Linked DNA regions of Homo sapiens. The protein of the gene in region 1 interacts with the protein of each later gene in a pairwise test. Each region holds a gene or a part of one and is shown in the gene's direction. Other genes may lie near its edges. The genes, in order: CEP76, ZBTB24, FAM90A1 and TXNDC9.

Region 1 (8,431 bases):
AAATACTTAAAATTTTATGGTTGGCTAAAACAGATTGTTTTGCATGAAGTATATCAGAAGAGTTAATGTATAGCACGGTAGAAGCAAAAACAGCATCACCAGTTTCTTGTGTTTTAATAATATGTTTTATAAAAACTGTACAGCCTTGCTTTTAAATATTAATATAATTGACAAATACACTTGCTGAATTGATAATTATATGAGTTGGTTTGTGAAGGTGGAGGAATGTTGGATAAGCAGTTAAAAAGCAAAAGTATACTACATATTGGCTCTGATGCCTTTTCCAGCTGGGAGAAAGTAGCCTGGATGTAAACTCAGAAAAGAATATCATATTTTGTGTATCTTCTCCCCAGAGTGCAAATGATTCTGGCATATACAGTAATAAATTTGTTACTCTTTTGCTTTTTTTTTAGTCTTTGGTATTGGGTTTTTATCTGTCAAGTTTTTATTTCCTAATGTCTTGATCACATTCTTTTAAGTTATTTGGCAGTTTCCTCATATATATTGCTACACTTTACAGCTAATATTGATCCAACACGGAGGTATCTTTACCTTCAGGTTTTGGGTGGAAAAGCTTTCTTGGAACATCTGCAAGAACCTGAGCCTTTACCTGGACAAGTTTGTTCAACGTTTACTTTATGTTTACATTATCGAAACCAACGTTTTCGTTCTAAACCTGTTCCATGTGCCTGTGAACCAGATTTTCATGATGGCTTTTTACTTGAAGTACACAGAGAAAGCTTGGGTAAGAAACAGTAATAAATTGTCATTTAATTGAGTAAATCTTTGTTATGTTTTATTGTGAAACAATAATAATGACTTTTTCTGTAAGGAGAGATTTATAATGGAGGAATCTCTATTTTGTTTCCCACTGCTCTTTTCAATTTAAACTACTATCCACCTTCTTGCAATATTCTGTTTGCTATTCATTTTCCCTGGATATTATTTTTTGACTGTTTTCATTGTTGATTCTTTAGTAATACACACTTAAATACCTATTATGTGCATAGTGTTATGCTAGGCAGGTGCTGGGATGATATAGTGGAAAATGAGACATGGTCCTTCTCATTTATAAAATATAACCAGATTGATGATGTTATGTAACTTTTAAAAGTCGAAGTTTAGGCTGAGCACGGTGACTCACAGCTGAAATCCCAACACTTTGGGAGGTCTAGGTGAGAGAATCATTTGAAGCCAGGAGTTCAAGACAAGTCTGGGCAAAGTGAGACATTGTCTCTACAAAAAATAAAAAATAGGCTGGGTGTGGTGGCTCATGCCTGTAATCCCAGCACTTTGGGAGGCCAAGGCAGGTGGGTCACCTGAGGTCAGGAGTTTGAGACCAGCCTAGCCAACATGTCGAAACCCTGTCTCTACTAGAAATACAAAATTTCTAGCCGGGCATGGTGGCAGGCGCGTGTAATGAGCCGAGATCACCCCATTGCACTCCAGCCTGGGCAACAGAGTGAGACTCTGTTTAAATAAATAAATAAATGAATAAATATTTATAAATTATTTATAAAAACTTCTAATAAATTTTTATAAATACTTACAAATAAATATAAATAAAATAAAAAGTCAAATTTAGATGTGAACATATAACTGTCATTTTAATTTTTTCTTTTTTTTCTTATTTCTCCAATAAAGCATGTAATTCTCATAACTAAATTTTATGCTACTTGATTCCTGTAATTGTTTTACACTATGTTTCTTTCAGTAAAGGTATTTTGTATTTTGTAATTGTCAGTATGGAAATCTTTATATTTGTAAACTAAGCAAAGTTTCAGAATGTCTTCACAATTTTAGATTTAAAGATGACTGAAACATTACTAAAATTTATTTTTTTCCCTTTGAAAGATGTTACCTTAATAAGGCAATTAATAGGATAAATTGCTAGATTCGATGTGCTGTATTTTTCAGTTGTATGTCAATTATACAGTGATAATTTCTGGAGGTTAAAGGGATTTCTTGAGGTAGTTTGGGGATTAATATTGACATACTTGAAGGCTTTTTATTGTAGTAGCATATACTTTAGTTAAGTACTTTTAAAGAACAGACTTATCTTATGAATCAGAAAGCACTGATATGCTGTAAGTTACTGGATAACTCATCACAATTTGCCAGTCTTCTGAAAAGTTAGTGATAGAAATAGGACTGTACTTGTATTTCCAGTTTTTTGCATGCTTTCTGAGACATTAGCAAATTGTTCTCTTTGGTTTTATATAAGCTTATTATTTACTGTTTAATAAAAGTATTCTTTTATGTTGGCCTAACTGAATATGTAGTGTGGTATAATTTCGTTTGGATTATATTGCTAGGTGATGGAACTAGAATGGCTGATTCAACAACAATGTTATCAATAAGTGATCCAATTCATATGGTGCTAATCAAAACAGACATATTTGGTGAGACGACTTTAGTAGCATCATATTTTCTGGAATGGCGATCGGTTTTGGGCTCAGAAAATGGAGTGACCAGTCTGACTGTGGAACTTATGGGTGTAGGTATGGTGATTAATATATCATTGTTAACCTTTTTATAGCCACAGTTCATTTGTAAATATATTTTATATCTTTAAAATGCTTTTATAATCCAAGAGGGAAACCTGTAAAATAGAATTTCGTTAGAGTTACAATTGGACCTCAGCATCCTAATCTTGAGAAATGTCTTGAAGAATAATATCAGTATAGCACTTCATGGTCAATCTGACCTTGTCTTAGGAGAAATGTTTTTTTCTGGAAAATGAATACAGGAATTTTGAGGGTTTTAATTTCAAGTTCATTTGATTAAATATAAGGCTATAAAGAAAATTAATATTCTTGACACACATACAAACTTATGTGTGTCCAGTCATCACACCCTGGAATACATCCCCTTTGGTACCAGTGATTCTTGCAAAATACAGAGTAGATGTTCTCCCAACCTTTTACAGTGTGGGTGAGTGAGACTCGGAAGAGGAAATAATTTGCTCAGTGTTAGTATCAACTAGTCCTTGAGGGCAGAGCTGGTGCCTATCTTATTTATCATAGTCTCCTTGGAATCTTGCACACTGCCCGCTATGTAACACATACTTGCTAATAAAATGAGAAAACAAAACCTACCAATGTTTTATCTATAACATATAATGGAATTACTTTGGTTTTTAAACTTAGTCACAGAGTTAAACCTTGCCAGTGGACAGCATAGCCTTAGTAATTTAGATTATTATTATTATTATTATTATTTGAGATGGAGTCTCGCTCTGTCACCAGGCTGGAGTGCAGTGCTGCAATCTCGGCTCACTGCAACCCCCGCCTCCTGGGTTCAAGCGATTATACTGGCTCAGCCTGCTAAGTAGCTGGGACTACAGGCATGCACCACCACACCCAGCTAATTTTTGTATTTTTAGTAGAGATGGGGTTTCACCATGTTGGCCGGGATGGTCTCGATCTCTTGACCTCGTGATCTGCCCGCCTCGGCCTCCCAAAGTGCTGGGATATTGGCGTGAGTCACCGCGCCCAGCCAGTAATTTAGATTTTAATAAGTCATACCAAGAATGTATTTTTCTTTAAATAAAAATTATAGAAAAAGTGTCCTTTATGTAAGAAATTTATTTTCAAAAACAATACCCAATTTGTCTTCAAAAATAGGCCTAACATGATAATCGTAGCAGTGACCTGGAAACAAGCAGATTCTGATTCACTGAAGAAACATTAAATCGTTTTGATGTGAAGTATATTTGTTTTCTAGTTCTTTAAATCCAGGCATGGATTGAAAATTTCTACTCAGCCTGTAATTGGATAATGGGGAGTGACAAATGGGAGTTACTATAAGTGACAATATAAATGCTTTCTAATTTTTAGTGTGTGTGTGTGTGTGTGTGTGTGTGTGTGTGGAGAAGGAATGAGGTGTTAACAGTTGCTTTGACTTTGAATTTAATGTAAGTCTGGTTGATATTATACATTTAATTAAGACAAAAATTAAGAGTCTCAAATCCTTTAAGTCAGAAAAGTTTCTTAAAACCTGTTAGAAAAGCCAGGTGTAGTGGCTCATGCCTGTAATCCCACCAAGCACTTTGGAAGGCTGAGGCAGGAATATCACTTGAGCCCTGGAGTTTAAGACCAACCTGAATAACATAGGGAGACCCCATCTCTACTTAAAGAAGAAAAAGAGTGTCAGAAAGCTAAGAAAATAATCTCCTTATAATTAAACACCTTTGTTTAAAAAAATTGATTTGGTTCATTTTAATATGAATATTAAAGGTAATGTTGAATGTTATCTTTATTCCATGTAAGTGATAAAACACCCAAGTGCCTAAATTATTTTGGTTAGACTTTGGTTGACTAAATATATATAGTATTGAAATCTCTGAAGTTCAAAATATTTATGTTTATAGGCACAGAATCAAAAGTTTCTGTGGGAATTTTAAATATAAAACTTGAAATGTATCCACCACTCAATCAAACGTTATCTCAAGAAGTAGTGAACACACAGGTAAATACTTATGAGTTTCTCTTTTTTTGTGTGTTTGTTTTCATAGTAGTATATTTACCTGTTGATCCTAGAAAGCACTCTATTTTTAGAAAATTACCATTTATTACTTTCTAGATTAGCACTCAAAGGTTCACAAAAAGGATGAGGAAGAAAATAAAGACAAGATTGTTTTCCTAGCAGAATCTGTAGTCTAGTTTAGGAAATACGATGAACATTTATTGAGACAGCATAAGAATTACAGGATAGGCCGGTGGCTCACGCCTGTAGTCCCAGCACTTTGGGAGGCCGAGGCGGGCGGATCACAAGGTCAGGAGATCGTGACCATCCTGGCTAACACGGTGAAACCCCGCCTCTACTAAAAATACAAAAAAAAAAAATAGCCGGGCGTGGTGGCAGGCACCTGTAGTACCAGCTACCCGGGAGGCTGAGGCAGGAGAATGGCGTGAACCGGTAAGAGGAGCTTGCAGTGAGCCCAGATCGCACCAGTGCACTCCAGCCTGGGCAACAGAGCAAGACTCCATCTCAAAAAAAGAAAAAAAAAAAAAGAATTACAGGATAAAGCTGAAGAAGATCAAAGAGTAAAGTGCAACCTCAGTGGGATGGGATTTTAACGTTCTTTCGCAGGCGTTTATTGAAAGCTTGCTGCTTATGTCTTTTCTGCTCTGTTCTCTCAGGGTAGAAGTGCTTGCCACTTTTAGAGTGTGTTTGGAGAGGCTTTTTTCCCTAATTCCACTGTCAGGTCTCTGATGAATTACTTTCTTCCTGGGTCTTAAAAGATCGGCAGATTTTTTCATTCCTTCACATTGGATTTGCCATCCATGTTTAGTTCTTGCCAGTCTTTAGTTTGGAGGTTCTCATTATCTGCTGACTTGCCGGGATGGCACTTGTGGAATGGTTCTCCTTGATTACATACACCACCCTTTACTCCACCCTGCCTGTCATATTGTTCCTTTTACAGACCTGTGGTTAGACGCTAGTGCTTCTCCCTCAGGCAAACAATGTCCTGCCCTGTTTTCTTTAAACTTTTTTTCCTTCCTTTTGTAAACTCTCATCTCCCTCTAATCTCTAGCTTCTGACATGTGTCATGGGTGGTATATATACCTGAAACCACATAGTGAGAACCAACTTTGATGTTACTCAAATAAATACCCAGCCCTGTGGGAGGCTAAGGTGGGTGGATCACTTTTGAGTCCAGCAGTTTAGGACCAGCTTGGGCAACATAGTGAGACCCTGTCTCTACAAAAATTTTAAAAAATTAGTCAAGCATGGTGGTACATACTTGTAGTCCCAGCTGCTTGGGAAGCTGAAATGGGAGGATTGCTTGACCCAGGAATTTGAGGTTACAGTGAGCTGTGATTGTACCACTGCACACTAGCCTGGGTTACAGACTAAGACCCTGTCTCTTAAATAAATGGTGTATACACACATATACATTATGTGTATACGTGAGGGGTTTTTTTGTTTGTTTTTTTCAGACAGAGTCTCGCTCTGTCGCCAGGTTGGAGTGCAGTGGCGCAATCTTGGCTCACTGCAACGTCTGCCTGCCGAGTTCAAGCAATTCTCCTGCCTCAGTCTCCTGAGTAGCTGGGACTACAGGTGGGTGCCACCACGCCCAGCTAATTTTTGTATTTTTAATAGAGACAGGGTTTCACCATGTTGGCCAGGATGGTCTCGATCTCTTGACCTCGTGATCTGCCTGCCTCGGCCTCCCAAAGTGGTATACATGAGTTTTAATCATGTTATTCATATATTTATGTGACATATAAAGTAAATGTTTGGGCTCTACTTTTTTGGGGTAGTAGCTTGTTTTTTTTAATTAAATTTTATTTTTTTAGAGACAGCATCTCACTCTCTCAGGCTTGAGTGCAGTGGTGTGATTATAGCTCACTGAAACCTCAGACTCCCAGCCTCAAGCAATCCACCTGCCTCAGCCTCCCAAAACATTGGGATTGCAGACATGGACCATTGTGCCCCACCAGGTTCTCCTTTTTAAACTTAACATTATTTTATATGTATTTTCTTATATTTCCACTGTCATATTTATAATTTCTAGTGACTAAAACATAAGTTTATTCTATTATCTGATAAATAAATTGCTTCTAATTTTCTCTTTAAAATTGCACTATTAAAACTTTTAGCCAGGCTAATTAATCTGTAATCCCAGCACTTTGGGAGGCCAAGGTAAGAGGATCACTTCAGGCCAGGAGTTCAAGACCAGCCTGGGCAACATAGGTAGACTTCATCTCTACAAAAATTTTTAAAAATTAACTGCACATGGTGGTGCATTCCTGTAGTCCCAGCTACTGGGGAGGCTGAGGTGGGAGGATCGCTTAAGCCCAGGAATTCGAGGCTACAGTGAGCCATGATCATGCAGTAGCACTCCAGACTGGGTGACAGAGCAAGACCCTGTCTCTTAAAAGAAATTAAAGTCAGAAATATGTATGGATCCTAAATAGATGTCAAAATGTGCTAGACACTGTTCTAGACACTGGAGATGTAGCTGTGTATAGGGCAGCAGACAGCTAGACAGCTTGCTCTCAAGGAGTTTAGATTCTAGTGCAGGAGAAACAATAAGTCAGCAAACAAAATAATCAGATAGTAGAAGGTGTTTTATGGAGAATTATTACAGGTGATATGATACAGTGGTTATTGGGTGGCTAATTATAGGTCGAGTGACTAAGGTAGGGAAAGAGTCTGAACAACAGGAAGTAACCAGCCATGCAAAGATTGGGGCTGAGCTTCCAGCACTGGGAACAGCCTAGAACAAAAGCCCCTATGGAGGACCGAAAGCCCTGTGTGGCTAGAGCGTAGTGGGTTGGGGAGAGAGGAGAAAATGAGATAGTCGGGCCAGAGTTCATAGGCCAGGGCAGGTATTTTGCAATGTGATGGAGAATGAAGTGTTTTAACAAGAGAATGACAGTATGTTTTTTTTTTTTTTGAGATAGAGTCTCACTCTATCGCCCAGGGTGGAGCACGGTGGCATGAACTCGGCTCACTGCAACCTCTGCCTCCCGGGTTCAAGCAATTCTCCTGCCTCAGCCTCCCGAGTAGCTGGGATTACAGGCATGTACCACCATCCCCAGCTAGTTTTTGTATTTTTAGTTGAGATGGGGTTTCACCATGTTGGCCAGGCTGGTCTCGAACCCCTGACCTCAAATGATCCACCTGCCTTGGCCTCCCAAAATGTTGTGATTACAGGCGTGAGCCACCATGCCCGGCTTGTATGATTTACTATTTAAAAATTTCTGGGCCAGGCGCGGTAATCCCAGCACTTTGGGAGGCCAAGGCGGGCGGATCATGAGCTCAGGAGTTCAAGACTAGCTTGACCAATGTGGTGAAACCCTGTCTCTACTAAAAATACAAAAAAAAATTTAGCTGAGTGTGGTGGCACGTGCCTGTAGTCCCAGCTACTCAGGAGGCTGAGGCAGGAGAATTGCTTGAACATGGGAGGCAGAGGTTGCAGTGAGCTGAGATCTTGCCACTGCACTCCAGCCTGGGCGACAGAGCAAGACTGCATCCTCCACAACCAAAAAAAAAAAAAAAATTCTGTCTTTGAGGAAAAAAAGGTGACTTATGATTATTGTATGGAGATGGGATTGTACTAGGGGTAAGTGTAGAAATAGGGAAGTCAGGAGGCTCTTATAGAAGATGATGATGACTCAGATTAGGGTGGTAATGATGTAGAGAAGTAGATAAATTTGCTACATATTTTGTAGTAATTAAAGATAATGAATAGAAATTGAAAAATATTTTTTTCAATTTCAAGCTTGCTTTGGAACGTCAGAAAACTGCAGAGAAAGAGCGATTATTTCTTGTATATGCTAAGCAGTGGTGGAGAGAATATTTGCAAATTCGACCCTCACACAACTCACGACTGGTTAAGATTTTTGCACAGGTTTGTAAATTATATTAGAATAATTTTATGCCTGTATTTGAGATTTACTGTTATGTGTGTAAATTT
Region 2 (8,431 bases), on another chromosome or scaffold:
AAGGTGGGTAATATCCTCATTATACATTGTATGATTAAAATCATATTTACTCATATGTAAGAGAGGGTTGCTAAAGTGCATAGTTTACAGATGAAGCAACCAAGTTCTAGGGAGCTTAAATAACTTGCCAGAGTCACCCGTTAGTGACAGAGCTGGGATTGAACCCAGGTAGCCTGGTTCAAGAACCCCTCTCATTTGTAGTTGTTGAATGAATCCTTTAATGTCCACTTATCAAGATCTAGCCCAATGTACCCTGCTTTCTGATTCTTGAACATTCTTCATCTTGACCATAACCATGCTTTTGCCCAAGTCTGTGTAGATCACTTTGTAACTCAGCTATCTAGCTTTAAATACCTTCTCATTTTTGGTCCCTCTAGCCCAGCGCTGACCAATGGGACCCTTCTGTGATGATGGAAATGTTCCTACATCTCTGATGTCCAATATGGTGGCCAGTAACCACATGTGGTTTTTGAGCACTTGAACTGTGGCTAGCGTGACTGAGAAACTGAATTTTAAATTTTATTTTAATTCATTTAAATTTGAATAACCACATGTGGCTAGTGGCTACCGTATTGGACACTGCAGTCCTAGTGAGAAATCCCTTCCTCCTTTGAGCCCTTTCAGGTGCTTAAAACCCACTCTGCTTTGGATCAGATTGTTGTTACCACTTGTATATCCCTCAACTTAATTGTAATCTTAAGTATAGGGACTGGGGCTTAAGTCTTCTCCTGTGATCCAGCAGTATCTGGTGCTGTGGTTCTCAGCCTGCAAATTGGAATCACTTAGGGAGCTTCTAAAACTACCAGTGCCTAGACCTCCACCCCAGAGCTTCTGATTTAGTTGTCTGGAGCCTTGGTGCTTTTAAAAGCTCCCTAAAGACTTTAGCTACAGATAGGTTGAAGAGCTTGAATTCAGGTACTTCGAACAAAGTGGATACTTGAGAAATATTTGTTGAACTGTAATAGGTTATATTTTAGCTTTTTTTTTTTTTTTTTTTTTTTTTTTGAGATGGATTCTCGCTCTGTCACCCAGGCTAGAGTGCAGTGGCGCGATCTCGGCTCACCGCAACCTCCGCCTCCCGAGTTCAAGTGATTCTCCTGCCTCAGCCTCCTGAGTAGCTGGGATTACAGGCACACGCCACCACGCCCAGCTAATTTTTTGTATTTTTAGTAGAGACGGGGTTTCACCATGTTGGTCAGGCTGGTCTCAAACTCCTGACCTCGTGATCTGCCTGCCTCAGCCTCCCAAAGTGCTGGGATTACAGGCGTGCGCCACTGCGCCCAGCTGGCTATTTTTATCAAAAATTTTATGTGCATAGTTTAGAGTTAAATCATTATACAAGACTTAAGAAAAAGCATGTAGGATCGTTCTTCCCTTATGTCCTCAGTACAGACAGTCCCCGACTCACAATGGTTCAATTCATCTTTACAATAGTGTGAAAGCAGTACATGTTCAACAGAAACTGTACTTTGAATTCTGAGTTTTGATCTTTTCCCGGTCTAGTAATATTCAGTATGATCCTCTCATGCCATGCCGGGCCACACAGTCACGTGGGTAAATGACCAGTACTCTGCATTTGGTGCATTCATACAGTACTCTGTATAAGTGCATTTTTCCTTATGATATTTTCAGTATGATGGGTTTGTTAGATGTAGTCCCATCATAAGTCAGGAAGCATCTGTATTCTGAATTTTGCAGCCCATCACTTTAGTATGGGTCTGTTTTCTTCCATCTGGGTAGATAACAGGTAGATTCATAAGGTTTGGAAACTGTCTTTCAGTTCTGGAAAATCTTGAGTTATTTCATAGATGATTTCTCCTCTCTGTTTTCTCTGTTCTCTCTAACTTTATTTTCTCTTATATTTTCCATCATTTTTGGCCCCACCCTCTGGGGGATTTCCACTTTGTTTTTCAGCCCTTTGAGGTTTTCTGTTTCAACTCTTATTTTTTTCCCCCTTTAGGAGCTCTTTTTTTTCTAAATGTTTTAATTTGAATGATCTTTTTATTTCACAATGTATTATCTTACCTCTATGAGCATGTTAATGATAACAACATTTTCCTCACTGGAGGCAAGTTGCTTTTTTTTTTCTTCTTGCTTGTTTGTCTGTCACTATTACAAAAGGCTCTCCTTGAGTGCCTGGTGTTTTTTTTTTAAATCATATGTAAGGGTGGGTTGCTAAAAGCTACTGGCAATGCTGCATGTGTGGAGAGAGCCTGTATTTTATTTATTTCTTAGGCTGTTGCCCAGGCTGGAGTGCAATGGCGTGATCTCCGATCACCACAACCTCCGCCTCCTGGATTCAAGTGATTCTCCTGCCTCAGCCACCCAAGTAGCTGGGATTACAGGCACGCACCACCATGCCTGGCTAATTTTTTTTGTATGAGAGAGTCTGTAAAACTGTGACCTTGTTCCCAGATCACACTGAGAGTCAGGCTGCTATTTCTCGTGGCCCAATAATGAGATGCAGATGAATTGGAGAGGAAGAGAGTTTTTATTTCTGTAACCAGTTATAGGGAGAAGGCCTGGAAATTATCGCCAGACCAACTCAAAATTACAGAATTTTTCAGAGCTTATATACCGCCTAAGCTGTATGTCTGTCTGTAAGTGTGCATTCCTCTAAAGACGTAGGTGATTAACTTCTTTTAATCTATATCCAAGGTCTGCGTCCCAAAGACCTTCTTCTGGAGCCTCAGTAAGTTTACTTAATCTAAATGGGTCTAGGTGCTGGGGTGATTACCCTTATCTTCTGCTAAATCACGGAGATTTGGGGAGTTCCTTCAGATCCCCAGTAAAACTTGTTTAATCCTAAGTGGGCCCTGTTAAGAATTCCTTCGTTATTTTGTCATGCTTTAAGGCCCAGGAGAAGCCTAGGGGAAACTCTTGGTGGGCTTTTGTTACATTCCAGCCTTTGTTTAAGGGCACTGGCTTTTAATGTTTAACTTAACCACTCAGTCAGTACTGAAACAGTTGTATGGAGGCCTGTCATAACCTCACTGGAGGTGGTGTGGCTGTGCCCCATGTCCTTACTGGTGCCTGGCTTCCACATCTTTGCTCTCTCACCTTGGACCTCTCATGTTCCACTGGAAGACGCTTCTGCTCTCCCACTTGGAGGCACTAGGCCTGGCTGCTGGCCTGTGTCTAGGACAGGATGGGGAAGAAGGAGTGGGGGAGTCTCATCATCCCAGATGGAAATGTTGACTTACTCTCCCTGTGGTGATCCCAACTCAACTGTGCCTAGAAACTCCTAATCCAAAGACCCCTTTTTCTTAACCCTCCTCAGTGAACACTCTCCATTCTCTTTTGGGGGAGGGACAGTCTCCTGGCTGTGTAGAGTGGAAGATTTGATCAGGGGTCTAAGCACCTTTGAAACAGACTTTCATTTACCCTCCCTCACCCCTGTTTCCAGAGATAGCAGGTGCCACCAATTCCTGAGCCTTAGGAGATTGTGTCTTAAAAATTAGGTTGTATTGGGCTGGGTGTGGTGGCTCATGCCTGTACTCCCAGCAATTTGGGAGGCCGAGGCAGGAAGATTGCTTGAGCCCAGGAGTTGGAGACCTGCCTGGGCAACATAGTGAGATCCCATCTCTAAAAAAAATTAAAATTACAATTAAAAAATTAGCTGGGTGTAGTGGTGGCACATGCCTGTGATCCCAGCTACTCAGGAGGCTGAAGTGGGAAGATCATTTGTTCCCAGGAGGTTGAGGCTATAGTCAGCTATGGTAGCGCCACTGCACTCCAGCCTGGGTGATAGAGTGAGACCCTGTTACAAAGGAAAAACAAAAAATTAGGTTATGTTAGTGCTACTCACTGCTGGCTTCAGATTCATCTGTTCAGCTTCCAAAATTTTATTGCTGATGTCTCTTGTGTTCATTGTTGGCCTTTTGGATGTGTGCCTTTTAAGAAAAATCCTTTATTGTTTTTTTAATTTGGGAGAGACAGAAAAATGTGTGGATTCTTACTTATACCATGCTTCTGGGGCTCTTCTTCCAGGGGAGCGACCTTTCAAATGTAATGAGTGTGGAAAAGGCTTTGCCCAGAAGCACTCGCTACAGGTCCACACCAGGATGCACACAGGCGAGCGGCCGTACACCTGCACCGTGTGCAGCAAGGCTCTGACCACCAAGCACTCACTGCTGGAGCACATGAGCCTGCACTCAGGTAGTGGGGCTTGCCCAGAGGGCCAGCTTCACCAGATTCCCATTCCCCAGGGTGGGCATTACCAACACCTAAATGGTGTTTTCTCAGCCTAGTATCATTTCCAACGTGGTGTCATTGAAAGACAGGATTTTGCATCTGTCTGAGTGCAGTTTAGAGTTCTGCACGGATCATTAAACTAGAGCTTATAAACTGGCTGCTGGGAGTTTAGTGTGCAAGCATGTTTTATTAAACCACCAAAGTTTAGAATTGTTTTACTTTGAACGCCTTTCGGGGAAACTTAAATTCTCCAGTTCTACCCCAGTCTCCAGTACTCCCGATTGCCTTACATACCTTTGCACATTTATGTTTCTGTGGTAGATTGAAGGCTTCTGGGTATGTAAACAAGTCGCTTGTATCATTTGTAGAAAATGGGGACCTGGACCCACTGTAGTATTTACCTTATTAGTGAGCATTCCAGTTCTTTATAATTTTTTACATGTTTTAGTGTTTTGGTTTTTTTGGCAGGACAGAAGTCTTTTACCTGTGATCAATGCGGAAAATATTTCAGCCAGAACAGACAGCTAAAGAGCCATTACCGAGTTCATACAGGTACGATAAAGTGAGAACATTTAGATTGGGGGGGAAGAAATGCAAATAAGAATTGTTTCTGAAACATTAGGTTTATATTGTTCTGCTCTTAGCACATATCGTTCACATAGGGTATTTAGGGAAAAGTGCCTTAAGAGTCTAAATTACATGTTTTTATGTTATTGTCCGCCACCATGTGAATTATGTTTTATTTGTATACTACAGTTTTGGTGCCACACACAGAAACCCTACAGAATTGGCATCTTTCAAAAGTGCCACTTGCACAGGGGAGCTTCAGTGAATGGTTGTTAGTGGTGCCTGGGCAGAGACATCATCATCCCATGGCTGTCAGCCCAGGCTTTCTCTCCCCTGGTTCTACCTGTTGTCCTTTTTCTTTCCTGCCAACTGATAAGAAATGAATGTGGGTTACGAGTGTCATTTGAGGTCATTTGTGGCCTCAGTCACACCAATACTTTGAGGAAAAAAGGAGAGACTACATTTAGAATTGGAAGGATCCTAGCTCTCTTGGAGGAGGCAGTGAGTTGAGGTGCTTAGGAAAATATTAACAGTTACCAAATTAATGAAAAAATTTTTGTGGTTAAAGTACTATATTTAAAGTGATTATTTTTCAGGGAAGTGCTTTAACACAAATCACTGAAGAAAAGGCAGGGAGAGCATGTATGCACTGACACTTTTTTTATTGTTGCGACAAGGCCACTCATTACCGGAATGCAAAGACTGCCATCGCAAATTCATGGATGTGTCTCAGCTAAAGAAACATCTGCGAACACACACAGGTAAAACTCCATCTCGTCTGTCCCCCCAGTACACGGGATGTTTTCAGGAGAGTGAAGAATGAAGTTCTCTGAGTGCCCTGCTAAGCCTGTGTTTGGAAATGTTTATTATAAATTGGATGGGAGTTGTGTAAGAAGATAAGTTAAAAGTTGGAAGGCAGAATGTTGTCAGCACTGTCTTTGGGGAAATCACATCTCTTGTAGATGAGCAAAATGGAGATCACTTACTGAGGACTATTCGTATGTCACAATTCATTTAATACCACAGAATAGTGAGTCTGAGTCTGGTTCTATGTTTCACTCTTAATTTACTTCAGCATTGAAGGTGATATCAAGACTTTTTTTTTTTTTTTTTTTTAAAGATAAGGGCTTGTGCTGTCATCCAGGCTAGAGTGTAGTGGCACGATCACAGCTCACCACAGCCTTGACCTCCTGGGCTGAGGTGATCGTCCCACCTCAGCCTCCTGGGTAGCTGGGACCACAGGTGCAAACCACCACACTACCTAATTTTTTATTTTTTAATTTTTGTAGAGATGGGTCCCACTATGTTGCCCAGGCTGGTCTTGAACTCCTGGGCTCAAGCAGTCTTCCTGTCTGAGCCTCCCAAAATGCTGAGATGACAGGCATGAGCCACCATACCCAGCAAGATAAATTTTTTTTTTTTTTTTTGAGACGGAGTCTCGCTCTGTTGCCAGGCTGCAGTGCAGTGGCACGATCTTGGCTCACTGCAACCTCTGCCTCCCGGGTTCAAGTGATTCTCCTGCCTCAGCCTCCCTAGTAGCTGGGACTATAGGTGTGCGCTACCATGCCCAGCTAATTTTTTTTGTATTTTTAGTAGAGATGGGGTTTTACCATGTTGGCCAGGATGGTCTCGATCTCTTGACCTTGTGATCTGCCCACCTTGGCCTCCCAAAGTGCTGGGATTACAGGCGTGAGCCACTGTGCCTGGCCCAAGATTATTTTTTTAGAAAAGACAGCCAAATGTAACAGACACAAATGTAGCATAGACACTGAGAATGTTTCCACTTTCTCCCCTAGAACCAACACTTAAACTTAAGCAGCACCACCTCCAGAAAAATCAGTTTCAGAGATGACGAGGAGGCAGCATTGATTAGGGCAGGTCAGTTTTTTTATGTAAGATCGGAAAATTGGATCTTTTATACCTTTTGTCAAAGAATGTATGTTAAAAATAAGCCTATTCAGTTTTCTAAGAAAAACTTGCCATTACAGGTTATTTAATAATTCTGTTGTCTACTGGAATTATCTAAATAGCAAATTGATTTATGGTGCTTTGGACTTTTTTTTTTTTTTTTTTTGGAGTCACTGTCTCTGTCGCCCAGGCTGTTGTGCAGTGGTGCTATCTTGGCTCACTGTAACCTCTGCCTGCTGGGTTCAAGCAATTCTCCTGCTTCATCCTCCCGAGTAGCTGGAACTACAGGTGCGCACCACCACGCCTGGCTAATTTTTGTGTTTTTTTTTTGTAGAGACAGGGTTTTGGCATGTTAGCCAGGCTGGTCTCGCTCAAACTCCTGGCTCAAGTGATCCACCCTCCCAGCCTCCCAAAGCGCTGGGATTACAGGCGTGAGCCACTGTGCCTGGCCTGGATGTTGTTTTTTAAATACAAGTTTTTCTTCTTAAATTCAGTAAACATCTCATAGGATATGGATTTTAACACATGTACTGAGCACTTACTGGGAACCAGACATTGTTTTAGGCTTTGAGGATACAGCAGTGAATGAGATGGACAGGCCCCTGCCTTAAGGGGCCAACATTCAATAGGGAAGACAGAGTACAGACAAGTATATAACACATTTGGTGTTGTGAGTGCGTTGAAGAATAAAATGCAAGGTAAGGGGGCGGGATGCCGGAAAGAGAGTTGCTCTTTTATGCATGGACTGGTTTGGGAAGGTCTCACAGATGAGGTGGCATCTTGGATGGAGATGAGAATGCAGTGGGGGAGTGAGCCAGCCGGCCATTGAAGATGTCCAGGAGAGAGCATTCTAGGCAGGGGGAGCCCTGGGCACAGGGCCCTCAGGCAGGAATAAATGTTTTTGACAAGCTGGAGACGTGCTGGGAGGAGCATCAAGGCAGCCAGAGAGCTGGGAGTAGGAAGTCATAGTGTAGGTGGATGTTCTCAATTTAGCTGCATGCTTTTTACCACCTGGGAAGCTTTAAAAAAAAGCCTTGTCCCAGCTGCCAAGATTCTGATTGACTTCACCTGGGCAGAGCCTGGGAATTGGTGTTTTTTAAAGTACCCCTCAACAGTTGTAGGGTGCACTCGGGCTGAAGTACTTTGAAGGCCACAGTAAAGATTGGATTTTATTCTGAGGGAGATGGCTTTACTGAGATGAGTGACATGGCATGACTTAGGGTTGTAATAGGGTCACTCTAGCCACCCTGTGAGGTGGGGGCGAGGCCAGGGTGGAGGCAGAGAGACCCATCAGGAGGCTGTGCAGTAGTGGGGCTCGGAACAGCACAGTAGCAGCAGAGGTGGTGTCAGGTGGTCCAGTTCTGGAGATAGTCCAGGGAAGAATTCATGTGATTCGCTCATGATTGGATGTGGGAGTTGAAAGAGGAGGCAAAAGCCACTGTGAGGAGGAAAAGCTAGGGAAGACTAAGAAGAACAGATCAGGAGTTAGATTGTGGACTGGTTGGTGTCTATTTGACATCCATGTGCAGGTGTGGGGTAGATCATTAGATTTCCAGGTCTGGAGAATTCGGGGGAGAGATGCAGCCAGAGCTCTGGATTTCCACAGGTGCACATGTGCCTGCAAATAGTGGGTGGCGCTGTGCTGAGTTCCCTAGGGAGACAGCGGTGGTGGAGGAGCGTGGAGCTGGCTTGGTCATGCTGAGCAGTGCCAGAAGAGGCACTTCCCCTTGGTTCTGTTGCCTGAGCATAAGGGGGAGTGAGG
Region 3 (5,290 bases), on another chromosome or scaffold:
CCAAAGAGTTCTGTCACCACCACCCAGGTTGCTTTTCCCATCCAAGGTGGGCGTGGCTTGGGACCTCCTCCCCGGCCCGATAGGCCCCTTGAGAGACTCTTGGGGGCAACCTCCCTTTCTACTTAGAGTCCTGTGTAGCCACGTTTGGCTGTGTTGTTGACATCGGGTTCACCATCGTGCCCCTTAGGACCTTGAGTCCTGCCTTTTAGAGTTCCTCCGTCACATGGGCTTTGGGAGGGAACATCGTATCCGAACTCTCCCAGCACTTAACGGCCCCCATGCCGGTGTCCCCTCTTTGGAATCCTTATTCAGCTCTGAATTCACAATCCGTCTCAATGTTGACGTGGGATCGGTGCCTGTGGCTTCAGCTCACTCACTGACATCACTTCCTTTCCACCCACAGCTCAAGTGCAAAAACTGTGAGGCCTTTGGCCACACGGCCAGAAGTACCAGGTGCCCCATGAAGTGCTGGAAGGCAGCCCTGGTTCCACCGAACTTTGGGGAAAAGGAAGGGAAGGAAAACCTGAAACCATGGAAGCCCCAGGTTGAAGCGAACCCTGGGCCCTTGAACAAGGATAAGGGAGAGAAGGAAGAGAGACCAAGGTGAGCAGTGGGAGTGGTTTTCACCACTCTTAGGGTACTGCCTCCTAAGGACATGGTGTCTCTGCACCTGCACACCGTGTGCCTTTCCGTCTCCGGGCCAGGGAAGGAACGCTGCAGAGAAACAGACCGGAGCTCTGTGTCTTCCGGAGTTCCACACCCAAGAGCTCCTTTGGCTCTGGGAGATTCAGGGACGGGGAGGGGCGGGGGCGCTTCGTGCAGGTTCCCCACGACAGGGGGAAAAGTGATGGAATCCAAATCACAGTCCTTAGTTGGGAAGCCTAGAGGGCCACCTGGAGGATGGGAAGGTTGGCACGTGAGGGAAGGTGCAGAGGCGGAAAGGGCACCAGATGTCCATTTCTGTATCACAAAACACGGAATGGGACTGGGCCCCAGACAGGGTTCTCCCCGTCTCCTGGGGAAAACCAGGGAGGACGGCCTGACCTTTTTCTGTTCTGCAGGCCACAAGACCCGCAGAGGAAGGCTCTCCTCCACATATTTTCCAGGAAACCTCCAGAGAAGCCGCTGCCAAATCAAAAAGGATCCACGGAATCTTCTGATTATCTGAGGGTGAGGGTCACCCTGGGCCCCTGGTCTTTTTCTCCTCTAGGTCACCCTGGTTGATTTCCTTTCAGCTTCCCGTCTGCGGGAGGGAATCGGGGAACCCCTCTTTCTTGCCTTCTTGGGGTCAGACACTCCACGATCCTTCCAGGTCAATTTGATTCCAGGCGAAGGCATCTGAAGATGCCGTATTTCCTGTTGCTTTCTTTCTGTCCAATTATGGCAAGCCTGCCAACAACACGTTCCTAGCGGCATGAGGAAATTAGTCCCTCAGAGGCCCCAAACGTGGAGAAGGCTAAACCCAGGAACATGCATATGTTCAGAGAAGACGTCCTGAGTACCCTTGAGCCACCAACCTGCCTTCGGAAGGGCATCAGTCGGTTCCACTTCATGGAAGGCTGAGTGGAGGCGCTTTGATCCAGCTAATGCCTAAGACGCAATCTTTTGAACAATGGTGTGCTTAGATCAGCTACACATAGCTCGAGAGCGCATCTTTCATGTGTCTTGTCCTGATCAGCACTCAGGTGGAGGGTCTGTCCCTACTTCCAAGGACCGCCTGTCGATAGTGTACTAAGAATTTCATGGCGTGTGCACCTTGTCTTTGGATGTGGTTGATTTTCATGTTGGCTCCATGCTGAGGAACTTCTAACCTGTGTTGTTTCCTCTCTTTCAGGTTGCAAGCGGGCCAATGCCGGTCCACACAACCAGTAAGAGGCCGCGTGTGGACCCTGTCCTCTCTGATCGCTCAGCTACCGAAATGTCTGACAGGGGCTCCGTCTTAGCTTCACTGTCTCCCCTCAGAAAAGCCAGTCTGAGCTCCTCCTCAAGTCTTGGACCAAAGGAAAGACAGACAGGGGCTGCGGCCGACATCCCTCAGACTGCAGTCAGGCACCAGGGCCCCGAGCCTCTCCTCGTGGTGAAGCCGACACACAGCAGCCCTGCGGGTGGCTGTCGAGAAGTTCCCCAGGCTGCCTCCAAAACCCACGGCCTGCTCCAGGCCGTCAGCCCCCAGGCACAAGACAAACGTCCTGCGGTGACCTCACAGCCCTGCCCACCAGCCGCCACACACAGCTTGGGCCTAGGCTCCAATCTCAGCTTCGGGCCAGGAGCCAAGAGATCTGCCCCGGCTCCGATTCAGGCTTGCCTGAACTTCCCCAAGAAACCGAGACTGGGTCCCTTCCAGATCCCCGAAAGCGCCATCCAGGGAGGTGAGCTGGGGGCCCCGGAGAATCTCCAACCTCCGCCAGCCGCAACCGAACTTGGACCACGTACGTCACCCCAGACAGGCACGAGGACACCCGCCCAGGTGCTTAGCGGCGACCGGCAGCCTCCGCACAGCAGACCTTGCCTGCCTACTGCCCAGGCCTGCACCATGTCCCATCACCCAGCGGCCAGCCATGATGGGGCCCAGCCTCTCAGAGTGCTCTTTCGGAGACTGGAAAACGGACGCTGGAGCTCCAGCCTGCTGACGGCCCCCTCATTTCACTCTCCTGAGAAGCCGGGAGCCTTCCTCGCTCAGAGCCCTCATGTCTCAGAGAAGTCTGAGGGTCCCTGTGTTCGTGTCCCACCAAGCGTCCTCTATGAGGACCTTCAGGTTCCCTCCTCCTCAGAGGACAGCGATTCTGACCTGGAGTGAGACTGCAGGTGGCAGGGGCTCCTTGGCCTCCAGCTCCCGTGACTTGGAGGGGACTGTGGGACTGAGGAGCACAGAGCAGAGAGCAGACTCTGTGCGGTGACTCCGAAGCTCCCCGGCTGTGGCCCTTCTGTGGATGTGGGAGCCCAGGCCAGGCAGGGAGCAGATGCAGGGACTCTGCCACGTTGAATTCTGGTGAGGGACATTGTAGTTCGCATGGTTCTCTGGAAACGCGCCAGGAAAAGCTTCCGTGCCAGTGATTCGTTGCCTCAGAAACTGCATGACGCGCAGGAGTCAGACTTCCGCTGGGACGTCAATAGGAAACGGGGGAATTACTGTGTATTTGCTCTCTAGACGACTGAATAAGGGAAAAGTTAGGGAACCCTGAGAGGTGCAGCCCTTCCGCTGTGCCCCGCCCTGAGAGCAGTGTTTCGGACGCTGGGAAGCGCGCTGTGCAAAGCGCTCTCGGGGTCTTTCCTCAGCCTCGAAAAGTGGGCTCTGGAATCCCTTTGTAAATAGGTGTGTTGAATTTGTTTTGAAGTGAATAAAATTCTCAAAAAGATGACATATTGTCTTTTGACTTTCATTCCGTGTTTGTGTTTAACTGATTTTCCAAGTGAAGGGGTGGCCTGCCCCTCCACACCTGTGGGTGTTTCTAGTCGGGTGGGATGAGAGACGGAGAAAAGAAATAAGACACAGAGACAAAGTATAGGGAAACAACACTGGGTCCAGGGGACCGGCACTCAGCACACCAAGGACCTGCACCGGCACCGGCCTCTGAGTTCCCTCAGTTTTTTTTATTATGATTTTCATTACTTCAGCAAAAAGGAATGTAGTAGGAGAGCAGGGTGATAAGAAGGAGAAGGTCAACAAAAAAAACATGTGAGCAAAAGAATCTATATCATAATTAAGTTCAAGGGAAGGTACTATGCCTGGACGTGCACGTAGGCCAGATTTATGTTTCTCTCCACCCAAATATCTCAGTGGAGTAAAGAATAACAAGGCAGCACTACTGCCAACATGTCTCGCCTCCCGCCACAGGGCAGCTTTTCTCCTAGCTCAGAGTTGAATAAATGTACGATCGGGTTTTACACCGAGACATTCAGTTCCCAGGGGCGAGCAGGAGACAGTGGCCTTCCTCCATCTCAACTGCAAGAGGCTTTCCTCTTTGACTAATCCACCTCAGCACAGACCCTTTACGGGTGTCAGGCTGGGGGACAGTCAGGTCTTTCTCATCCCATGAGGCCATATTTCAGACTATCACATGGGGAGAAACCTTGGACAATACCCTGCTTTCAAGGGCAGAGGTCCCTGCGGCTTTCCACGGTGCATTGTGCCCCTGGTTTATTGAGACTAGAGAATGGCAATGTCTTTTACCAAGTATACTGCTTGTAAACATGTGGTTAACAAGGCACGTCCTGCACGGCCCTAGATCCCTTAAACCTTGATTTTATACAACACAGGTTTTTGTGAGCTCCAAGTTGGGTCAAAGCGGCTGGGGCAAAGTGGCTGGGGCAAAGCTACAAATGAACAACATCTCAGCAAAGCAATTGTTTAAAGTACAGGTCTTTTTCAAAATGGAGTCTCATGTCTTCCCTTTCTACATAGACACAGTGACAGTCTGATCTCTCTTTCTTTTCCCTACATCCAAGGGCTTGAAAATTTCTTGACTTGTTCTCAATCCAAATCGTTATGTCTCTGAAACAGAGTTGACTGAGGGGACCGCAGGGCTGGGCAGGACCTTTGACTTCGTATACATCCACAGGAGCAAGAAAACCTCAGCCCCACTCTACCAACACACACCTAGTAAAATTCCGCCAACTGAATCTCACGCACGCTAACACGTGGGGAGCGTTGCTTGCACCACGAGTCCCCATTTGGCTCAACCGCCGATGCCAAGTGTGTGGTTCCAGTTGCGACGGCCCCCCGTGAAGTGGCTTCCGGATGTGCGAATGAACCAGGCAGAGTTTCACTGGCCAAATAGAGCCCAGCAAAGCTGAAGTTAACTCCCAGATTTGGGATGTACTTCAGAGGTAAAACATTCATCCCATCTTCTTTCCGGATGTCTGACACCGGGCCTTTCCATGGTTCTCCCCCTGATCCTAAGAGTAGCTGAGGTAGAGACTCACTGAAAGATCTAGGCAGGGATATCCCATCATGCCCAGGCTCTCTCCATTCTCTGACCTGGGAACAACTCTGAGCAGGATTCCACATCTAGGAGGCCTCGGAACTGAGCGCGATTTTCTGAGACACACCAAATGGCTGCTCCCTTTCCGCCGCTGTTGAGGGTCGTTATCCTGATTATCCAGATCACCTAGAAAGTATCCGTATCCAGAATCAATAAGATCAACTCTCTGCTCCTCTGACAGCAGAAGGAGCAGGACCACAAGGAACCAAAGAGCGTGGAAGGAAACGATGTGACAGGAAAGCTCAGAGAACGGCCACAGGGGGTCGTCAGCAGGCCTTCCAACCTGAATCATGAATAATTAATGAAGC
Region 4 (9,105 bases), on another chromosome or scaffold:
TTCATTCCCAAGGTCTCTTTAGGGAATCTAAACTATTTTAGGGGGTCAAAACTATTTTCAAAATAATACTAAGAGGATACTAGCCTTTTTCATTCTCATTTTCTCACAACTGTACAGGGGAGTTTTTCAGAAGCTAAATGATGTGTGATGATGCTGCAGATCAAATGCATAAGCAAATGTGAGGATCTATCTTCTATTAAGTCATATAATAGTGAAGATGTTTGCAAAAACGCTTAGCTCTTCTATTTTTGAAAATATGGTTATTTAATAATGTTATGTATCATAGTGTAAGTTTATTTTTATTTTTAAATTAAATATTTGAAGAACTTTTCAGTTTTAGTTTGTAATACCTGTAACTGGTAGATATAACCTACATACACAGAAGCCTTTTGTGTTCCTTAGGAATTTAAGAGTGTAAAGGAGTCTAGGACCAGAATTTGAGAATTGCTATTCTAACCTAACCACTGACACTCAGTTCCTTGGTAAAACAACACTCTGCCCACCTTATAGATCAACTGCAATACTGGAATAAACTTAGAAGCATAAATAAAGCACAACAAATGAGCAAGTAACATTAAAAGTAGCTGAATGAGTTCCCCACAGGGACAGCATGGAAGGCTAGAGAGGTTACTATCAACAAAAATCTATAATCTGTTTTCTTATTAATTTATAGCAAACTAGGACTTCTTCCCCTACCACTTCCTAAAGCGTCAGGATAGGAACAGGCTAGACCAAAAGAATTCTGATTATGCATCTTTTTTTGATGTAATTTATGCAGACAAGAGTTTCATTCAAATATATGCAAGTAAGAAATGAATTCCTTTATTAAACCTAGGCTATGTGTATTATATTTGTTTGATATGTGGATATTGAATCCTAGCCTTTGTCTCAACAAGTTTCCCGAGTCAACTGAAAAAGGTCAGGAAAACTTGCTGAACAAACACCACATCAAAATCTCATTCTTAGAATTACACAAACTGGGGCTGAGCGTGGTGAATCACACCTGTAATTCCAGGCCTTTGGGAGGCCAGGGTGGGAGGATCACTTGAGTTCAGGAGTTTGAAACCAGGCAGCCAACATGGTGAAACCCTGTCCCTACTAAAAACACAAAAATTAGCCAGGTGTTGGGCGCCTGTCATCCCAGCTACTTGAGAGGCTGAGGCAGGAGAATCGCTTGAGCCCAGGAGGCGGAGGTTGCAGTGAGTGGAGATCGCGCCACTGTACTCCACCCGGGGTGACAGAGCAAGACTCCATCTCAAAAAAAAAAAAGAAGATTTTTCACAAACTGGAACAGAATTCTAGAACTTGGTCTTTAAGCAAAATTCTAGAATTCTAAAAATACACAGACAAGAATAAATATCTTGATCACTGACACATGCTGTACAAATAAAATTAGGTAAGTTAAAATCTAATTTTAAATGAATACTGAGTGGCTAAGAAGTTAAAATAAGGATTAATTAAATATAAGAATTAAGGACAGTGAGTATTGTATGTTCTGTCCAAGAACTGAAAAGTGGCTCCATGCCTTCTCTTGATAACTAAATAAGCAGTTGTCATTTCTCACACAGTTCACACCTTGCCAGAAACATGCCTGACATAGCCAAGGAGGGGAGGTGGAATGACAGTAAAATCTTTAAAGTGTGGACCTTCACCCAGGAGAATAAAACCGGATCTCTATCTCATTTTACACAAACAAGAATACTAATCCTAAAATTGGACTTTCTCCCTCTAGATTTTCTTTCCAGTCTGTGTTTTTGTCCCATTTACAAATATTCAAAATATCCCTGAAGAAAGGAAAGAAATATTAAAATAAAGGTAAAAAGCTGACTCACAAAGCAGTGGAACTTCCCATTCCCCATCTCCCAATATCTCATGTGGAAGACCAAAATAAAAACCCAAGCAGTTCCAGTCAAAGGGAACTCTGCTAAAGCTCAGGATTTCTTAAACACAATCTGAAAGCCATTCATAAAAAGGAGTCCATGAGGCATTTATACACACACACACTCACAAAATGTATCAATTTCATATATTGGTATATGAGAAAATAAATGTTTTAAAATTATATTGCCACCACTTTCCCTTCAACATGAGCCAAAAACAAACAAACCAAAACAACAACAACAACAACAACAAAACACAGATTAGGTTGAGAGGGGGAAAAAACAGCATTTCTTCTACACAACCAAACCAATCATTTAACAACAGGGTCTAGTGTGCAATTTAAACTTTACAGCATCCCTGAAAATCTTTATAAATCAATGAGACACTCACTTTTCCCTAAAAAGACACAGACAAGAATAAACATCTTGTCTCCCAATGGCTTTTTTCTATTGTGAAAGAGCCTGGAAAGTAAAAAGTGTAAGTAGGGAAACATATAAGCCGGATCGCGCCTGTAGTCCTAGCTACTAGGGAGGCTGAGGTGGGAGGATCACTGGCCAGGAGTTCAAGACCTGACTGGGCAACATAGTGAGACTGCCCCTCCATCTCCAAAAAACAAAACAAAACAAAAACACATATATATGTAATTTTAATCTAAAGAACACATTTGTGTAATCCTAAACCAAACGAACGAATTGAAAAAAAAACTGTAATAAGACAATCAGGGAAATCAGCAAACTGACTGAATATTTGCTAATGTTTAAGAATCACTATTAATATTTCTTACAGATATACTTGGTGGATTTACAGATGAAAAGCTAATGAGATTTGCTTTAAAATATCTAGTAGGTGGGGGCCAGGGGCGATGGATCACGCCTGTAATCCCAGCACTTTGGGAGGCCGAGGCGGGCGGATCACCTGAGGTCGGGAGTTCGAGACCAGCCTGACCAACATGGAGTAACCCCGTCTCTACTAAAAATACACAACTAGCCGGATGTGGTGGTGCATGCCTGTAATCCTAGCTACTCGGAGGCTGAGGCAGGAGAATCGCTTGAACCAGGGAGGTGGAGGTTGCAGTGAGCCGAGATCGCGCCATTGCCCTAAGTTTCTTGTTGTCTGGGCAACAAGAGGGAAACTCCGTCTCAAAAAAAAAAAAAAAATGTATATATATATTTGTGTATATATTTGTATATATATATATTTATATATATGTGTGTATATATATTTGTATATATATATATATACACACACTTCTAGTAGGTGGGATGAAACCAAGCAGGTCATGTGCTAACAATGGTTGAAGGCAGGTAATTAATACATAAAGGCTCATTATACTCAGTTCTCTATTTTCTAGAGACAGCTGAACATTAGCAAGGAAAAAAGTACCCTATACATCAAAAATTCCTGTCAAAAGTACAGAAATTTGTGTTCCCCTACATCACCCATAATCCTTATTTTCTCATTCATCTGGTTTAACAATAATTCAATTCTCCAAACCAATTAACTTCCTCCAATAGACCTAAAACTGAAATACAAGACTATCTTTGTTGTCTTTTAATTCTACTCATAAGCTAGTCAAACGCTAGGTGAGAAAACGATCCAGGCTTCCAATTTATAATTAGTAAACTTATTTTAACTTCAAGACAACATATCTGTTTTGAGTCAGACTGATGAACTAGCACTAGTTTTTTTAATTTACCTTACTCTCCGCCTCGTATTTAAGTTTGGTGGGTAGTGTACGAACGTGTAATGTAACAGATGTTGTTCACTCCCAGGAAGTCAACTCTTTCCATCATGAGTAACAGAACTCAATCGAATGTGACACACAGAAATGTCTCAAAAATCTCTAGGTAAGTAACTCGCATATACCCTTATCCTCCCTCCCCAAAGCATTGCAGGTGGTTAGAAAGGAGCGACCTCGGTTGGTTGGTTTCTTCTTCTTCCCTTCCTTTCTTAGGGGAAGGCTAGAGAGCAAAGAAACGACAAAAAAAAACAGGCCGGAAGAAGGAAAGCGAAAAGCATGAGGGCTGGACAATCAGCCCTTAAATAAACGAAAACTGTATCCAAATCAGATTAAGTTGAGAGACAGCGAACTGCTAAACACCTCCCCATAACTCTAACGTACCTGAAACCGCGAGTAGAGAAACCCGGCCGTACATCACATTCAAGCTCCCTTCCCTCCCAAAGTACTCACAGGTATAAGAGGCATAAAAAGAACTTCCCCACCCTCGCCAAGAGTAGCGCGGAAAAAAACTCACACTGGCCTGGGCCACGCTGGCGAAGCCGCCTGACCCTCCCCGCGCGACCAGGAACCCTCAAATGACTACCCCGCTCCTCAGGCCGGGGAAGGGGTGCCGGGGGAGCGAGGCTCGACTGGGAGGACCCGCCCGCCGTCGAGGCCCTACGTGCCCACCCGGCCCGGGGGCTTGGGCCCGCTCCGCACACTCTGGGCCCAGGCCTGGTACCCCGCGAAGCTCATCGCGAGCCCAGACCCCGGTCCGACGCCGCGCCCGGCGAGACCCGCACACTCCACTGAGCCACGGCGGCCGCCGCCGTACGGACCCAACCCCTATCTACCTGTCTTCGCTCTTGTTTTTCTGTTTCTTCCCCATTGCTTGTCAATGGCGCTCGTGGCCCCAGCCCCTCTATTCGGTCTCTCACAGACCCACTGTCTCCCGGCTGACTTTGGTCTCCGCTCAGCTCTTTTCCCCTCGTGCTGCCGCCGCTCGCACCCGGCTCTCCACAGACCCGCGCACTGGAACAGGACACATATGGTGTGAGTTCTCAGTGCGCAAGCGCATCGCCCAGCCGCCTCGGCGTGAGGACGCAGGGCGCGGCTCATCGAGAGCTGCGCTTCGGGTAGAGCGTCTCCGGTTGACCGGCCGACCAGGCAGCAGCCCGAGCGCCCCCTGCCCTCAAGCGTCCGCCACGAGCCGACACCCGCGGGTTTTCCACGTTCTAGAACCCGGAGGTGGACAATGAAGCTGTCAATTTCGCCACCTCACCCCTCTCCCAACGGGGAACGCACGCTTCGGTTCAGGAGTGGGCTTTGGGCTTCCCTTTATATCTTTGTATTCTCAGCCGCACGAAGTTCAGTAAAGAACCACAACGAACCAATAGAGTCCTCTGGGGGTTTGCGAGAGAGATAAATTCAGGACAAAATAGGGACCTCTCAGTAACATCCATGCATTATGCATTATGTACAGTCACTGAATAAAACAGAACAGGACACAGCCGATCAATTCCCTAACATAGGTCTTCAGCTTCACCCTCAAAGCGAGGGCGAGTTCTAAAAATTCCTGTGTTTCGAAGAGTCAAGAGGGGACCTACAGGGGTGGTGGAAAATGTTCTATATCTGGATCTGGCCGGTGATATTTTGGGTTTTAACTATGCAAAAGTTAATTGTGCTGTATATGTTTATGCCTCGACTTTAGGAAAAATGTTAACAAAAGAAAACAAAAAAAAGAAAAATGTTCATTCAACACTAACAGAATGGAAACGCAGTTCAAGCGTCACGGCTGAGCGAGAGCACAGCTGTCTCATTTCCAGTCTGGCGCACTGGACCGTGAATACTGAAGCACGCTCCTGAGAAAGTCCGGCCACGACAGCCTGCGCACTAAGAAACTGCAACTCCCACAATGCTTTGCGGCCTTCCAGTTCGGCCGTGTACCCGGAGGAAAGCAAGGGTCGGACACCTTGGGTTCCGGGCTGCTGGGCGGGAGGCGCACGCGCAGAACTGTTCGCCACCCGACCGCCCGCCCCTTCCTCTGGCGTCCAAGGTGATATCGCGCGAGGTTCGCAGCCAATAAGGAGGCGGATGTGACGGCCCGTTTGCAGCCGCCGGCAGCTACTGCAAGGCAAAAGCCGGAGTGGACGTGTCTTTTGAAACTGCTGCTCTTTCACTTCTCAGGCGTCACCGAGAGCTCAGGTGAGGCAGAGGGTAGTGAGAAGAATCCGACCACCACGTCCGGGTGCTGGTGAACATTCTGCTGCTCCACATCCGGAGCGGAGGAGGGGCGCGGCCCCAGCACCGGTGTCGGTGTCCTGGCAGAGGCTCTTGCGCAAGCGCACCAGGAGGCGTCGAAGTTGGGGCCACCGGGACTGTGCTTTCCTCTGTTTCCCCGGGCGCAGGGAGTGGCCGGCTTGCCATTGGGGAGGTACCTGGGGTTCAGTTAAGGACCAGGCCCCTTGATTGTTTTGGCGGATACCTGTAAGGGTGTCCAGGAAATGACTAGGGAATTTGAGGACGCGCTGTGTCCCGTCCCACCCTTCCAGCGGAGCTGTAAAAAGGAAGAATCAGAGGCTGTGGTTTGAAAAATGAAAAGCTAACGAGGGGTTGCATCGTCTCTTTACCCCATTCTCAATGCTCTGACCACCAACACCTACACCCAGAATAGCTCTTCTTAATCTCGTCTTTTTCCAGTTATCCCATAATTAAATTCTGGGCTCATTCTATAAAGTTCCAGGGTAGGCATTCTCTGTGCTTATCCCTGGAGCACAGCTTCCAACGTTCAATTCAGTATCTTATTATCTTCTCCTTCCAGCCCCCTCACTGAGGGTCACAGTCCTACTGACATTTTTCTTGGGCGATAGGGAGCGTGGAAATCTTTGCTGTGTTTGAAATACAGCACCTTTCCAATTTTATAGCACTCACGAGGAGCTTACAATTTGGTTTTTTAGACTCAAATACTTTTGAAACTTAACAGTGTAGTAATTTGAACAGAAGTCAGGCACGTGTTCATTCAACGTTAAATACATGTTTATTGAGTACCTGCTGTGTTCTATGGAGATACAAAGATGAAATCAAGTATGCTTTTCAAATCCTTTTCCTGTAAAGAAAAAGGAATCAGAATTGAAGTTTGCAAGAATATTTCTCTTCAGCTCAACGTTTATAGAGGGCCTGTGTGGGTCAGAATCTGTGTCAGAAGCTGAGTGAATGAATTCACAGTTTGTTGTGAAGTTTGGGGTGCTTCAGTATTATTTGCAAATGTATCATAGTTCATTGATATGCAACAGCCTCCTGCTTTGATAGGCAAATTATAAATCATTTCTGCAGTAATAACCCTGAGATACACATAAACTTGCCCTCTAATTGTTGGTATAAAATTTCTCGTACAAAATACTCCATTTCTTTTAAAAGAAGTAAAATTTTGGCCGGGCGCGGCTGGCTCACGCCTGTAATCTCAGCACTTTGGGAGGCCGAGGCGGGCGGATCACGAGGTCAGGAGATCGTAGCCATCCTGGCTAACACGGTGAAACCCCGTCTGTACTAAAAATACAAAAAGAAATTAGCCGGGCGTGGTGGCGGGCGCCTGTAGTCCCGGCTACTCGGGAGGCTGAGGCAGGAGAATGGCGTGAACCCAGGAGGCGGAGCTAGCAGTGAGCGGAGATGCGCCACTGCACTCCAGCCTGGGCGACAGAGCGAGACTCCGTCTCAAAAAAAAAAGTAAAATTTTGTACTAATTGCTAGTACAAAATACTCCATTTCTTTTAAAATATATAGTCATGTGCCACATAAGGACATTTCAGTTTTATGAGATTGTAATACTGTATTTATCGTACCTTTTCTATGTTTAGATACACAAATGCCATTATGTTACAGTTGTCTGCAGTATTCAGTACAGTAACATGCTGTACAGATTTGTAGCCTAGGAGTAATAGGCTGTATGGCATAGCCTAGGTGTGTAGCAGGCTGTACCATCTGGGTTTGTGTAAATAGTCTATAATGTTTGAAACAATATCAAAATCACCTAATGATGCATTTCTCAGAATGTATTCTCATTGTTTTGTGGGTTTTTGGTTTTTGGTTTTTGAGACAGGGTCTGGCTCTGTTGCCCAGGGTGGGGTGCAAGTGGTGCGTTCTCAGCCCACTGCAACCTCTGCCTCCTGGGCTCAAGGTATCCTCCTCCCACTTCAGCCTCCCTAGTAGCGGGGACTACAGGCACACACCACCGGGCCTGGCCAATTTTTCTATTTTTAGTAGAGACAGGGTTCCATCATGTTTCCCAGGCTGGTCTCAAACATCTGAACTCAAGTGATCTGCCCACCTTGGCCTCCCAAAGTGCTGGGATTACAGGCGTGAGCCATAGCACCCAGCCTAGAATATATTCCCATTGTTAAGTGATGCATGACTAATTGAGATAGGTCTTCCTTTCTAATCTGAATTAGTTCTATTTTGAAACTCTGATTTTACACAGAGGAGTGATGTTGGAAAAAAACCCAAAATTTAGAAAAGTATTTGGAGTGTTTTACATCAAAGTTAACACTGTCAGTAAATGGAAACCAGTATTAATTTTTGTGACCTCATAGACTTTTTTGTTAGGTAATGGGAGAACAGGAATGGACATTAATGCTCAGGGAACACCAGGCACTCTTCTTTACATAAATGGTAATGAGACGTCTTAGGAGTTAAATGAAACTCATTTGGGCAGCAGCCATGAAAAAAATCTGTGTTTTGCTCAACTGTACTCTGTGTTTAAGTAAAGTTTAATATATATATTTATGTGTAAAACCTCAGTAGGTATACCTTCCTATTGTTCGCAGTTGTTTCTGATTTCTCTTTCCCATTGGTAAAGAACACTGATTGTCAGTATATATCACTAGGTATAACTTCACAACTCATTTCTCTGTGGTTTGGTGATGGTCTTAAAGACTTGTCTTGGCTTTAGTATAGTAAAACATATGCTAAATCAGAAGCACCCTAAATTTGCTGTAAGTAGTTTTTGAGTGGTGTGACTAGAACCTACTGAGAATTAAATTTAAAAACACATAAAAATTGTTAAGCCCAGCATCAAGTGCTTGGATGTCGTTAGAATACTCCATAGAGTACACATTATACACTTGCCAGAATTTTTGAAAATGGTAGAGAAAACCTTGCTTATTGTTTGCATTTTTTAAAATGTATTTTGTAAATCTTCTCCCCAGCACCCAGGCTGAACTCTGTACCATTTGGAAGAATGGAAGCTGATGCATCTGTTGACATGTTTTCCAAAGTCCTGGAGCATCAGCTGCTTCAGACTACCAAACTGGTGGAAGAACATTTGGATTCTGAAATTCAAAAACTGGATCAGATGGATGAGGATGAATTGGAACGCCTTAAAGAAAAGAGACTCCAGGCACTAAGGAAAGCTCAACAGCAGAAACAAGTAACCTCTCTGCCCTGCTTTCTGAAATTGCTATAACAGTATGCGCCTAACAACTTATATATACATGTGCTGTAGTAGTTAC

What was found.
Region 2: the proteins of CEP76 (region 1) and ZBTB24 interact in binary tests that used the Homo sapiens proteins (3 or more experiments, as listed by UniProt).
Region 3: the proteins of CEP76 (region 1) and FAM90A1 interact in binary tests that used the Homo sapiens proteins (3 or more experiments, as listed by UniProt).
Region 4: the proteins of CEP76 (region 1) and TXNDC9 interact in binary tests that used the Homo sapiens proteins (3 or more experiments, as listed by UniProt).

The regions. Positions count from the first base shown.
Region 1 is NC_000018.10:12,691,293-12,699,723, reverse strand, and holds part of CEP76 (centrosomal protein of 76 kDa), read left to right. Parts: intron 1-520; coding exon 521-745; intron 746-2,315; coding exon 2,316-2,501; intron 2,502-4,372; coding exon 4,373-4,470; intron 4,471-8,236; coding exon 8,237-8,365; intron 8,366-8,431. UniProt on the Homo sapiens protein: Centrosomal protein involved in regulation of centriole duplication. Required to limit centriole duplication to once per cell cycle by preventing centriole reduplication.
Region 2 is NC_000006.12:109,472,490-109,480,920, reverse strand, and holds part of ZBTB24 (zinc finger and BTB domain-containing protein 24), read left to right. Parts: intron 1-3,990; coding exon 3,991-4,158; intron 4,159-4,662; coding exon 4,663-4,746; intron 4,747-5,438; coding exon 5,439-5,522; intron 5,523-8,431. UniProt on the Homo sapiens protein: May be involved in BMP2-induced transcription.
Region 3 is NC_000012.12:8,219,329-8,224,618, reverse strand, and holds the end of FAM90A1 (protein FAM90A1), read left to right. Parts: intron 1-403; coding exon 404-603; intron 604-1,061; coding exon 1,062-1,170; intron 1,171-1,834; coding exon 1,835-2,797; 3' UTR 2,798-3,359; downstream 3,360-5,290.
Region 4 is NC_000002.12:99,332,940-99,342,044, reverse strand, and holds the start of TXNDC9 (thioredoxin domain-containing protein 9), read left to right. Parts: upstream 1-5,711; 5' UTR 5,712-5,806; intron 5,807-8,802; 5' UTR 8,803-8,834; coding exon 8,835-9,023; intron 9,024-9,105. Other genes in the region: EIF5B (eukaryotic translation initiation factor 5B), read right to left, coding at 4,456-4,490. UniProt on the Homo sapiens protein: Significantly diminishes the chaperonin TCP1 complex ATPase activity, thus negatively impacts protein folding, including that of actin or tubulin.